Homo sapiens: one gene and its partner. The protein of the gene in region 1 binds, or shares a complex with, the protein of each later gene. Each region holds a gene or a part of one and is shown on either strand. Other genes may lie near its edges. The genes, in order: ULBP3 and KLRC4-KLRK1. A codon is read from its position in the direction of its gene.

The links.
Region 2: the proteins of ULBP3 (region 1) and KLRC4-KLRK1 are in contact, whole or in part, in a crystal structure (PDB 1KCG), measured with the Homo sapiens proteins. Residues at the interface, in NP_078794.1 of Homo sapiens: His42, Leu43, Pro44 (codon at 41), Trp50 (codon at 59), Glu97 (codon at 200), Gln100 (codon at 209), Arg103 (codon at 218), Leu104 (codon at 221), Ala107 (codon at 230), Asp108 (codon at 233); in NP_001186734.1 of Homo sapiens: Lys150, Ser151, Tyr152, Ile182, Glu183, Met184, Gln185, Lys186, Ala193, Tyr199, Glu201.

Annotation. Positions count from the first base shown.
Region 1 is NC_000006.12:150,060,405-150,066,161, reverse strand, and holds the end of ULBP3 (UL16-binding protein 3 precursor), read left to right. Parts: coding exon 1-263; intron 264-488; coding exon 489-764; intron 765-1,448; coding exon 1,449-1,555; 3' UTR 1,556-1,577; intron 1,578-2,810; 3' UTR 2,811-5,109; downstream 5,110-5,757.
Region 2 is NC_000012.12:10,386,077-10,393,264, forward strand, and holds part of KLRC4-KLRK1 (NKG2-D type II integral membrane protein), read right to left. Parts: intron 5,816-7,188; 5' UTR 5,759-5,815; intron 3,966-5,758; exon of another isoform or gene 3,867-3,965; intron 2,800-3,866; 5' UTR 2,735-2,799; coding exon 2,695-2,734; intron 935-2,694; coding exon 827-934; intron 1-826. Other genes in the region: KLRK1 (NKG2-D type II integral membrane protein), read right to left, coding at 827-934, 2,695-2,734.

The DNA of each region.
Region 1 (5,757 bases):
CGCTCACTCTCTCTGGTATAACTTCACCATCATTCATTTGCCCAGACATGGGCAACAGTGGTGTGAGGTCCAGAGCCAGGTGGATCAGAAGAATTTTCTCTCCTATGACTGTGGCAGTGACAAGGTCTTATCTATGGGTCACCTAGAAGAGCAGCTGTATGCCACAGATGCCTGGGGAAAACAACTGGAAATGCTGAGAGAGGTGGGGCAGAGGCTCAGACTGGAACTGGCTGACACTGAGCTGGAGGATTTCACACCCAGTGGTGAGTGAAAGAGACCAAGGACAGAAGGGAGCAGACTGTGGGCTCAGGGGCTGTTCTGTGTGTGGGGAGAAGAAATTAGACATGGGACCTCCATGAAGCCCAGCAGCAAGGGCAGGACTTGGAGGAGACAACAGGACCAGATGAGAATGGTCTCAGCATAGGAGGATGTGGGACAGGGAAGAGAATTTGTAAACACCAGGGCTGATCTCTTTCTGATTGGGGCAGGACCCCTCACGCTGCAGGTCAGGATGTCTTGTGAGTGTGAAGCCGATGGATACATCCGTGGATCTTGGCAGTTCAGCTTCGATGGACGGAAGTTCCTCCTCTTTGACTCAAACAACAGAAAGTGGACAGTGGTTCACGCTGGAGCCAGGCGGATGAAAGAGAAGTGGGAGAAGGATAGCGGACTGACCACCTTCTTCAAGATGGTCTCAATGAGAGACTGCAAGAGCTGGCTTAGGGACTTCCTGATGCACAGGAAGAAGAGGCTGGAACCCACAGGTAACTGACAGGGGAGCACTGGGAGCATGTTGGAGATGCCATCGAGTTACACCCTTGTCTGTCAGTGTCTGAGTATGGTGGGTGTGGGTGTATGGGTGTGAGTGGGTGTGAGTCTATGTATGTGTGAGTGTGAGTGTGTGTTTGAGTGAGTGTAAGAACATGAACCCCTCATGGGGGCCTCCTCCTTGGGGTGCCTATGCTCTCCCTCCTGACTCCTCTTCCTCACTGCACTTGCTTTTGCTCCACTCACTGTGGATTTCTCACCAGCCTCAAAACTGTGGGCGTCATTGTGTTTCTAGACCTTTCTCCTTAGATTTCCCTCCTCCTAGGATCACTTTTCCTTTCCTCTCCCTTGGTTTGTTTCTGGAAATCCATCAAAACCACCTCGAATGGCAGCCCCGAGACTCTCCTGTCCCGGCCCTAGGGCATCACCTCCTCTTCCGCCACAGCAGGAGGGTGGGCTGTGCTGTCACCTTGCTTCCCTCAGCAGCTGTGTGAGCTCCCTGAGGACAGGGAGCACCCCTTCTCCCTTCCTACCCCCAGGACCTGTCACAGCGGCTGCCCCACAGCAGGGGAGACAAATCCTCTGCCTTCCCGGATGACCTGGGGTAGCAGGAGCTAAGGAGCCATCTCCTCAGATTTGGAGCGTGGACAAGAGTTGTCACTTTTGTGTTTCCCTTTCAGCACCACCCACCATGGCCCCAGGCTTAGCTCAACCCAAAGCCATAGCCACCACCCTCAGTCCCTGGAGCTTCCTCATCATCCTCTGCTTCATCCTCCCTGGCATCTGAGAAGAGTCATTTAGAGTGACAGGTACTGTGGGCAAAACTGTGAGGGGAACGAGAGACAGATGGGTGAGGTGGGAGGAAGGGAAAGGAGAATTTCCAGAGTCCCACCTCTCCCCATGGCCGGGACCTTCTCGTTCTGACATGAGACAGGTGAATGAGACCTGGTGTCGCCTGTTTGCAATGACCTGGGCAGCTCAACCTTGAGTTCTGATGGATTCTCACCATCAGGGCCAGAGGGAAAGGGAGGGACCCATATCAAGGCTCAGGGCCGGTTGAGTTCAAGAGGGTTTAGACAGTTCAGGCCTATTTCACAGCAGGTTTCTATCTGGGAAGGGTAGTGGTGTGTGGCCTGCAGGCAGCAGGAACTCAGGCATGGGCAGTCTGCACAGTAGGAGAGGAGTAGCATGGCCACTTCACCAAGGATGTCAAGGGAAGGGGTGTCCCTGGAGGAGGCTAAGAAGAGAGAAACCTGGGGGAATCCCAGGACGAGGGGGCTGTGAGGGCCTTGGCCCACCCAGTTCCTAAGGCTGCATTCCCAGAGAGAGCACCTTGAGTCCCAGCAGTTAAGGTGGAAGGTGAAGAGTAGAGCGTGTCCAGGATGAGGTTTAGGAAATGGCCGAGCCCCTTGGACCCATGGGATTCCTGGCTAGGCCCTGGGACGATGCCACTGCCATTCTGCCTCGTGCACACTCCAGATCCTGAGCCAGCTGATGGCCCTGCCTGGAGCAGAGTGGACTCAGCTAGGGCAGCTGAGCTGCTGCTAGAGGTCCGTGGTCACCACTGAGCTTGGCCAGGAATGAATGGGGCAGGGCAGGGACAGTCCCATTCAGAGCTATGGGTGCAGCTCCCAGGGTGAGGAGAGGCTGAGAGCGAAGGAGAAAGAAGGTTTGCCTACAAACCCACCCAAGGCCAGGGAACATGGATCCAGAGACCTCTCTTTGGACAGGGCTCCCCCAGGTCCTCTAGACCCTTCTATGAAAGGGAGGAGCAGGCCCTGAGTGAGGGTGCAGACCCCTCATTACCAGCCTCAGGTCTGAGCCCCTATGGGCTGTAACAGGACCTGGGCTGCCTCTGTGGTGTGGTGAAGGAGGGTGGAGGTTGGGAAAGGCTGCACAGCCAGGGGTAGGGTTGGAGGGAAAAACATGTTCCTTATCTGGGGGAGAAGCTCTGAAATGGGGAGGGCCTGGGAAGGATCACCCAGGAGAACAGACCCAGGTTTTTCTCAGCCACTTAAACCAATGCTTCATCTTTCCTCAAGGTGGAAGGTGATATCAAGAAGCCTCTGTTAGCCTGGTCTGGTTCCTGCTCTCCCTTCAGGGAGGCCGCCTGTCTACTCACCACTGTGCCTTTCTGGAAAGCAGGAGTTCAAGCCTTAGCAAGCCCAGAGGCCCCCAGCAGATGATGAGGACATTGTCGGCTCAACATCTCAGGCCACTCATTACCTTCGCTCATGATCCCAGCAGCCATTTTTCTTTTTTTTTTTTTGTTTTTTTTTTTTTTTGAGACGGAGTCTCGCTCTGTCGCCCAGGCCGGACTGCGGACTGCAGTGGCGCAATCTCGGCTCACTGCAAGCTCCGCTTCCCGGGTTCACGCCATTCTCCTGCCTCAGCCTCCCGAGTAGCTGGGACTACAGGCACCCGCCACCGCGCCCGGCTAATTTTTTGTATTTTTAGTAGAGACAGGGTTTCACCTTGTTAGCCAGGATGGTCTCGATCTCCTGACCTCATGATCCACCTGCCTCGGCCTCCCAGAGTGCTGGGATTACAGGCGTGAGCCACCGCGCCCGGCCAGCCATTTTTCTTAACACCTTCTGCCACTTTCTCTCGGTGCTAATGGATGGAATTCCTGCACAAGTTTTAACTGAACAAGAAATCCCAGCAAAAGGCATTTTCTTTCTACTTCTTTGATTGTGGAAAAGCAGACATTTCTCTGAAGCATGACCTTATTCTTCGAAACGGTATTGCTAGTAAAATAGCATGCAGGACTTCAGACCTCAGGGATCCTTTCCATGCACTGACCAAGAATTGTATTAATCCTTTTTATCATTATAGTTTTTTTACATTTTCTCATTCTGTCAACCATATTGGAGTGAAGTGGCATAGTCATCACTCACTGTAATCTCCAACTCCTGGGCTCAAGTGATCCTCTAGACTCAGCCTCTAGAGTAGCTGGGACTACAGGCGCATGCCACCATGCCTGGCAAATTGTTTTATATTTAGGTAGAGATTGGGTCTTCCTATGTTGCGCAGGTAATAAAACTGTGAAAATCCTGGAATATAAGCTAAGAAATACCAATGTGGACATAGGGCCTGGCAAAGATTTCATGAAGAAGACACTAAAAACAATTGTAACAAAAACAAAAATTGACAAATGGGACCTCATTAAACTAAAGAGCTTCTGCACAGAAAAAGAAACTAGCAACACGGTAAACAGACAGCGTGTAGAATGGGGAAACTATTTGCAAACTCTGCATCTGACAAAGGTCCAATATCCAGAATCTACAAAGTACTTAAACAATTAGACAAGCAAGAAAAAAAAACCCAATTAAAAAATGTGCAAAGACATGAACAGACACTTTTCAAAAGAAGACATACAAGTGGCCAACAAACGTGAAAAAATGCTCAATATCACTAATCATCAGATAAGTGCAAATCAAAACTGCAATGAGTTACCATCTCTTACCAGTCACAAAGTTGGAGATGGTGGTGAGGCTGCAGAGGAAAAGAAACAGACACTGTTGGTGGGAAAGCAAACTTGTTCAGCCGCTATGGAAAGCAGTTTGGAGATTTCTCCAAGAACTTAAAATAGAACTACCATTCAAGCCTGCAATCCCACTACTCGGGATATATCCACAGGAAAAGAATTCATTTTATCCAAAAGACACCTGCACCAATATGTTCATTACAGTGCTATTCTTACTAGCAAGGACACAGAATCAACCTAAGTGCCCAGCAACACTGAATTGAATGAAAAAAATGTGGTACATAAACACCATGGAAATCTATGCAGCCACCAAACACAGCAAAATCATGTCCTTTTCAGCAACATGGATGGAACTAGAGGCTATTATCCTAAGCAACCTAATGCAAGAACAGAAAACTACATACTGCATGTTCCCATTGGAAAGTGGCAGCTACACATTGAATTCACATGAACCAGAGGCACTGGAGATTACTAGACAGGTGAGACAGGAGGGGCACCTGGGCTGAAAAACCACCTGTTGGGTACCATGCTTACTGTTTGAGTGATGAGATCATTGGGACACCAAGCCTCAGCCTTCCAAAATCTACCCATGTAACAAACCTGTATGTGTACCCTTTAATCTATAATAAAGGTTAAAATTAAAGATTCGTAAGTAAAATAAAATGACATAGAGCCCTCCAAAAAATGGGGTTAACTGAGTGGAACGAGAGAACTTTGCACTATGAACGCTAACCCAGATCAAAAACTAAACTCTAGTCATTTAAAATAATCGTAAGTTGTATATGATGATAATTGTATAAAAGTTATACGTGAAAGTGCCAAACCCTAAAATTAAACACTGCATAATGAAATTATACAAGATTTCCATTTCCATCTTGTTCTTTATACCCTTACTTTTTTTTTTTTTTTTTTTTTTTTTTGCCAGTTTCAAGTGACATTTTTTTTGTTTATCCTCAGGAAATCCTTGCTGTCAGCCTTCTCCTTCTACACCCACCCCCTCCTTTTCCACCGTCCACATCAGCTCTTCCTCTGGTCTGGGACTGTGGCATTCTTGGCACTGAAGGCACAAGAGCTGCATTCAGCCTCAGGAGAGAGGAGGACACAGGGCAGGTTGTGGAGGTGGTCTCACCATTGGAGGGGAACCTAACAGCTTAGGCCCTCTATCACAGATGGCTGTGTTTCTCCACCAGGTTAGCTACAACCAAGCCAACCTTGCCCCTTTCCTCATTGTTTTTTTTCTAATTCTTCCCAACTCGTACTTGAAAATTTATATTCTTCCTCCTAATATTTCTTCGTATTTCTTGTCTGCACAATATATCCTGATTTATTGTGCCCAGAAAACAGTGGACTCACCATGTCCGTGACAGCTGCAAGGACACAGTCTCCACTCACTGGAGGGGCATGCTGGGCTTGGAGCCCCTCAAAAGCCCCTGCCCCAGAGAACTCTATTTGACTAGTCTGGGACTCACTGGAAAAGCCCCATTCATTGGGTTTGTCATTAT
Region 2 (7,188 bases), on another chromosome or scaffold:
TCACTGACAACTCTGGACAGATCTAATTTTTGACGGACTGTCAATTTTTTTTTCCAGTGGATATTTAAATTGTTTCTTAGGTCTTGCTATGAGAAATAATGATACATTTCATACCCATCTGTGCATATTTTTGAGTCTCTCTCTGGGATAAATTCCCACAATGATAATTGTTGAGGGAAAGGGCATGTGTGTTTTAAATTTTGGTAACAATTGAATATTTTAGTCCAAAAAGGGATTTTTACATATAGCACTTTGCATTCCTTAAATTAATTCTTGTAAAGAGATGCTATTTGTTAATAATTTGTTTCTTAGTTTTTAATAAAAATTGATAAGTGAGGGTCATCTGTTGTTTTCCTTTTCATACAAACTATATAAAGGTCTATTACCAATAATATTCTGCTTTGAAAAAAGTCATTGGAGAATATATCTTCTTCACTGAACTCAGAAACAATTCTATAAATAATAATCAAGCTACCACTTCTATAATGTTTAGGAACATATCTCTGGAGGGTTTTTAAAATATCTTTTCTCTTCTCTTTTTCATTTCTATTTAGTTTTCTTTTCAGTGATCTCTTAGAAACTCCTGCCTCGATTATATTATCATGATAATAAACTCATCATTTTTTAGGGCGTGACAATATTCTAAACTCAATAGCTTTTAATACCATAATTTTATTATATATTTTAATATTATATGAGAGTTCATGTTATTCCTGCTTTCCTCATGAAGATAAAGTCAACTGAATGATTGCCATTCATTTAATCACATAGTTTCCAAGATTCATTTCAATATACTGAGAGTAGACAAATGGAACATAGGACTTACCATTTTCTCTACATTTGCTTTTGACTACTGGACATCTTTGCTTTTGCCATCGTGTTGAAAAATCACTCTTCTTCAGATCCAAGTTATAATTATGAAATTCACTCATCTCTAGAGAAAAAGAATTCAGGCTTATATGAGTCATGGCCTTTCTGCCATTTGGGGCATAAATTTTAAAAATTCAGCTTGCCATTTCCATCTATGTACTTCCCCTGACTATCCTTTTTAAAGTACAACATGAACTTACTTTTGTTTTATAGTACTACATTATTATGTTTACACTTTACTATATAAATAAAACTATATTTATGCCATGGAAAGTACCCTTAGCAAAATCCTATATACTATTAAAATTAGTTAATTCGTAATGTATAATGAAACCTAACATTACCAGAAAGGGACTTGGTTAGTGAAAAGGCAGATGTAGGGAGAAAGACATGTATTTAAATCACAGATCCACATATACAAACTTGATAACTTCACAAATAACCTAGCTTTTGCATCCCAGTTTTCCTAATTTGCAAAAGACGAAAGAAATAAAAAAGAAAAGGATACTGTCACAATCCAGTATGGGTATTTTAAAAATAAAATAAAAATATAATGAACTTAGCATCAATAACATCAATCATTTAGTAAGCTTTTAGTAAATAGCAGTGTGTCTAATTTTCTTCTTTTCTTTTTTTTTTTTTGAGATGGAGTGCAATGGCGTGATATTGGCTCACTGCAACCGCCGCCTCCTGGGTTCAAGCGGTTCTCCTGCCTCAGCCTCTTGAGTAGCTGGGATTACAGGCTTGTGCCACCATACCTGGCTAATTTTTGTATTTTTAGTACAGACGGGGTTTCACCATATTGGCCAGGCTGGTCTCGAACTCCTGACCACAGGTGATCTACCCACCTCAGCCTCCCAAATTTCTGGGATTATAGGCATGAGCCACTGTGCCCAGCCATCTAATTTTCTTTATAATGAAGGACATACATAGGCTAAAATAGTGGGGTCTAATGATTTAGAACAAAGACAGATAATCTTGCCTCTGAACAAAATACCTAAAGAATCATTTTGCTCTCTTGAAATATTAATTATTTACTGATGATTAATATTTACTTAAAAGCCTTTTTTAAACTTTTATTTTTGGTTCAGGGGTGCATGCGAAGGTTTGTTACATATGTAAATTCATGTCACGGGGGTTTGTTGTACAAAAGCCTTTTATAAATTAAATGATAATATGAATTATATTTTATAGGTAAAATTAGACATTGATTGCGCATGTAATACCTAACTCAGTTATTTTACATATGGAGTAAAGAGAGTAGGTATCACTTTATGGATGAAGAAATTGAATGCTAGAGATGGCCAAAATCATAAAGCTTATTTAATATAATGTTACCAACTGTGAATAAGTTATAAATTTATAAACACCTTTAGGATAAAAAGTGCTTTAACATACATGTCAGTTGATTTGAATATTACACAAATCTAAGATAAATATGGAATGTTTCATGCCTGTATTTGATAGAAAAAGAAACTAAACTAAACTACACAGAGGTTGCAAATTGACCCTTCAAATCTAGAGAGCGGTAAAAGTTTGAGTAAAATTCAAGTCTGACTCCACATCTATTTCACTATTTCAAGCTGTCCCAAGTTGTGAGCGACTTTACCATAATATAGTTAATAAAATAAAGGGAAAAAAGTTTTTAAGTTTTGGAAGACTTGATTTAAAATACAATATGAACATAACATGAAATCAACATAAATAGAACATGAAAAGAATCAGAGTAAATTGCTTGCCTATGCCTTATATGCTTGTATGAAATTCTTGGTATCTTAAAATTGTATAAAAACAAAACTACACACTTATGTGGTAAAAACATACCCCAGCTGTGTCGAGACCTCCGACCACGAATCCACCCCATCAAATACTTATAAGTGCACGTCTACCGCAGAGAGGAATCTAAAGTCTTCAATGCACAAAGGATTCCTGAATAAAATAAAACTGGGCATTTGTTTTTTGTTCTCTTTCCCGTGGTGAGATAAAATATTTTGAATAGAAAAGTAAAATGCAGAAACTTTTCCCCTGTGCATGCCTTTAAGAAAAGAATAGAAATGACAATTCACATAAAGCCAGGCAAAATTAATTTTATACATTTCTCTTGGTTGTAAAATAATCGCCAATTACTTCAAAATGTCATAACAATATAATGAACCTATTAATTCACCTACATTGAGATATTTAATACCAATATTTTACTTTACTGATATTAGATAACAACACACCCAGTTTTCTGTTTATAGTCGTTTATTGCTTCTTGGCCTTTTAGCTAAGATCAAGTGTTTCCAGTTGTTTATTTTATCTGGCAATAATTTAGTTTTCTTTCTGCAAGCTAAACTCAGGTAAGTTATATGCACTTTTGTTGAATGTCCTTTTCTAGTGCATTTTAATCCAACGTGCCCATATCATCATCATCAACAAATTATCATCACCATCATCATTAACAAAACTAATCTCACATGTTTATATAGTAACATCTTAGCAATGCACAGCAGAGCTTCCAGAAAAAACCATTTAATAAATAAGCATAGTGCTTAGATTTCAAAAATAAAAGCTATTTCATATTTGATTATGATAGTTGGAAAGCACAGATATAACTTGTTTCACCTTGCATGTAAAGATGTGTATCAAAGGTAAGTGCCCCCTACAGCATCAGAAAACTCAAAAATTTGACAATTTAAATTGAATCTCAATTCTTCTCATCCTAAATGTAAAGATTCATTTTTCTAGTTTTGCTTAGAGACAAGGCTTCTTCTTATAGTAATATTACAACTTCTGATTCTTCAATAAGTATATCCTAATTACCTATCATCAGATACAGTGATAGAATATACATCAGAAATGATAAGCATTCCGTATCCTCAGGAGTTCTATTCAAGCATCTAAGAAACAATTAGAATTACCTTATAGTGTAAATATTTTTATTTTTTTGAGGTTGAAATATAATTTCTCATATCTTGAATAATAAACACACACACATACACACATACACACACCTGCTCAGAGAGGGAAGATCTTGATTCTTGTGGATAAAAGCCTTCTATAAAACTAGAAAATTTAGATATGTCCTCAGTTCCTGATCTAGAATTGAAAGTGGAGATACTTAGTGAATTTCTATCTTTGAGAAAGATGTGACAAATATTATAATCTCATCTTCCTGTGGAAAAACATAAACCACAGTACTTCCGCCTTATCACTACAAAAATATTGTTAATTTGGTAAAAGAGTTAAGACCACCCATTGTTGGATAAATGTTAGGTTGGTGCAAAAGTAATTGTAGTTTTGCCATTATTTTAAATAACATTTTAGGATTTGAAAATGATGAATTTAAATGATGCCATTTAATCCTAAATATTTTAGAGATTCAATTCAATTCCAGTTAATACCTCAGGTTTTGTTGTAGAACTTACAAAGCAGAATTCTACATGTACATTAAATTACAAAAGTCAAGACTAGGAAAGTCACAATTGAAGATGAAGAAAATGTGGGAGCCTTGTTTTACTAGATAGTAAGACCTATGTTAAAACCGTATTAATAAAGGCAAAGTGGCATGTGGGGCATAGATAGACAAATTGAGAAGGGTAAAAATACAGACAAGAAAAAGTCATGTGCATAGATTAAAAAATATAAGGTAACATTGCAGATAAAGTGGGAAATTAGCTCCTATTCAATAATTTGTCCTGGGTTACTATCACACTGGCCTTTAAGTTACAAAAAATTAGTCCTGGGAATTTTTAAATTTTAATATAAAAAACATGAAATTGCATCTCTGTCATATCTACATCATATGCAGGAGAATTAGAAACTTAAATATATACCCCAGTATACATAAGAATAATATATGAATTGATACCAATGAACAAGATAAGCTAAATATATATTTTATGTTTATTAATTTAAAATACTAACATAAGACATCATATAAAGTAATATAAGATGAACACATTATAACATTTTAACAAAAACCAAAGCTATTAATCTTAAAACTCTGAAATATAAGGAAGGAAAACAGCTTTCATGTGGTGATGTGTTAAAGTTGGACAATAAATTTATTCAACATTTTTTTTCTTTAGCGAATGCTATTTGCTATGCACTTTTCTAGATCTTGAGAATGTCAAAGTAAACAATCCAAAAGAAAGTTTTTGCCCACATGGAAATTAATTACTTTTTTTTTTTTTTTTTTTAAGAGATGGAGTTTCACTCTTGTTGTCCAGGCTGGAGTGCAACGGGGCGATCTCGGCTCACTGCAACCTCCGCCACCTGGGTTCAAGCAATTCTCCTGTCTCAGCCTCCAGAATAACTGGGATTACAGGCATGTGCCACCACACCTGGCTAATTTTTGTATTTCTAGTAGAGACGAGGTTTCACCATGTTAGTCAGGCTGGTCTCGAACTCCTGACCTCAGGTGATCCTCCTGCCTCAGCCTCCCAATGTGCTGAGATTACAGACGTGAGCCACCACACCCAGCTGGAAATTACTTTTTAGTTTAGGTGATATAAAATGAATAAGTATAAAACAAATTCAAAATTAAACAAGATAGGTGAATATAAAACAAGTTGAAGAAAATATGTTATTTTCTGACATACCAAGATTCTTTTCAGCTAATCAACATTTTCTATTAGCTATTTTATATAGTAAAAATAGATCTATATAGAGGAAATATAGGCTGATATTTTCTAACAACTACATTTTAACAAATATTTGGTTTTTGAAAGGAAATGAATAAATGAGTAAATGCAGGCTTTTTATGGGAAAAACCTGAATCACAATTTCCTGAAGAGTTATTTTTATATATGTAGTTTTCGATTGAATAGAGATTGTCTCTTAAATACAGAATTGAGAAAAGGGGGATAGGAATAGGATAAAAAAGAACATTTGAATATCCTACCTATTTCGTTTAGTTCAAATGGCAACTTACAGCCAACTGGGAAGTCCCCACACATACCTAAAAGAAGATTTCTGAAATAAATACCATGATAAAGCTAAGCACCAGGGAGAGTTTTATTGTCATATATAAAGGTCCCTAAACCAACTGACAGAGTGTGGAAAGGATTCTTAAAGAAGAAAATTCTAAAATGGGTCCTGTATGTCGGGTTAAAACAATTAGTTAGATAAAGAAATAGTATGTTAAAACTCCAATTTCTTTCTCAATGTTGAACATACACTCACTTTGCTGTAGTCATGATAGTAAACTTATTGGGGATTTGCTGGGCATTTGTACTGGTTTATTCTATGTGAATTGCAAAAGGACATAGCATAGTTTTCAGATAAAATACTTTCTAATAAGTGAAATAAAACCAACGCAATTAACTTCTGCAGAAAGAATAATTTGACTATAAAAGTACCTGAACAAACTTCATATAGACGTATCTATATAACTTTCAAAAACTATTGTTAGAAGAAAAATTACAATATTTTGCAAACAGCCTGGGCTCAAGTCATTTGAGAACATCCATCACCACAATAAACTATTTAATTACTTTCATTAGTTGAGAAGAGCCAACAATCAACCGGCCTTTTTGGTCAGTAAGCTAACTCGCACTGTGGCCTCAGAAAACCCTTCTCTTCTGGTACACAGGAAAGACTTAACACGCAGCCAACTTGTGGTTAGAAACAGAGTGCTTGGCAGGTTGCTGGCTTCAAGCTGTGACACTAAAGCTGGATGTGGTCAGAGGCGTTTACTGGACGCTTGCCCAAATATGAAAGCTTAAGATGTGCAGCTATTGCCAAGCAAAAATTTTGTAATCTTGACCTTTTGGTAAATGTGTTTGAATTGACAAAAGACATGTCAAAAAGGACAAATTTTTAAAATTCACATGGACAATAAAGAAAATAAAAAGGAGTGGAAGAAATAGAGCTGAGTCTTTGGATATGCAGGGGCATCTATGGCCACACCACCATGATGCATCCAGTCTCGTCTGGACACGCATGGGCATATTGAAGCAGAAGTGAAATGATGACTAATGTAAAAGTAAAAAAGTCTGCAAACATATTTTAAGAAATATGTATATATATATTTTCAGAACCTATTTTCCATTCAGCTAGGTATTAAGTACTGGGCTACACATACTGACATATAATGTTAACTGGTGTATTGTAATTATATGAACTCAAGGCAGAGATTCCATAAATCTGGAATTTATACTTTGGGGAAAAACAGGTCATCATCTTGGCAATTAATTAATTTTCTCTGGCACAGCTTCCTAAGCCAGGAATGATTAAATGATTTTTTTGCCCCATCTCAGTTGAAATTTTGTATAATTCTAAAATTTAGCAATTCAATTGAAATATCTTTAGCAAATATTTGTGTTATATTAA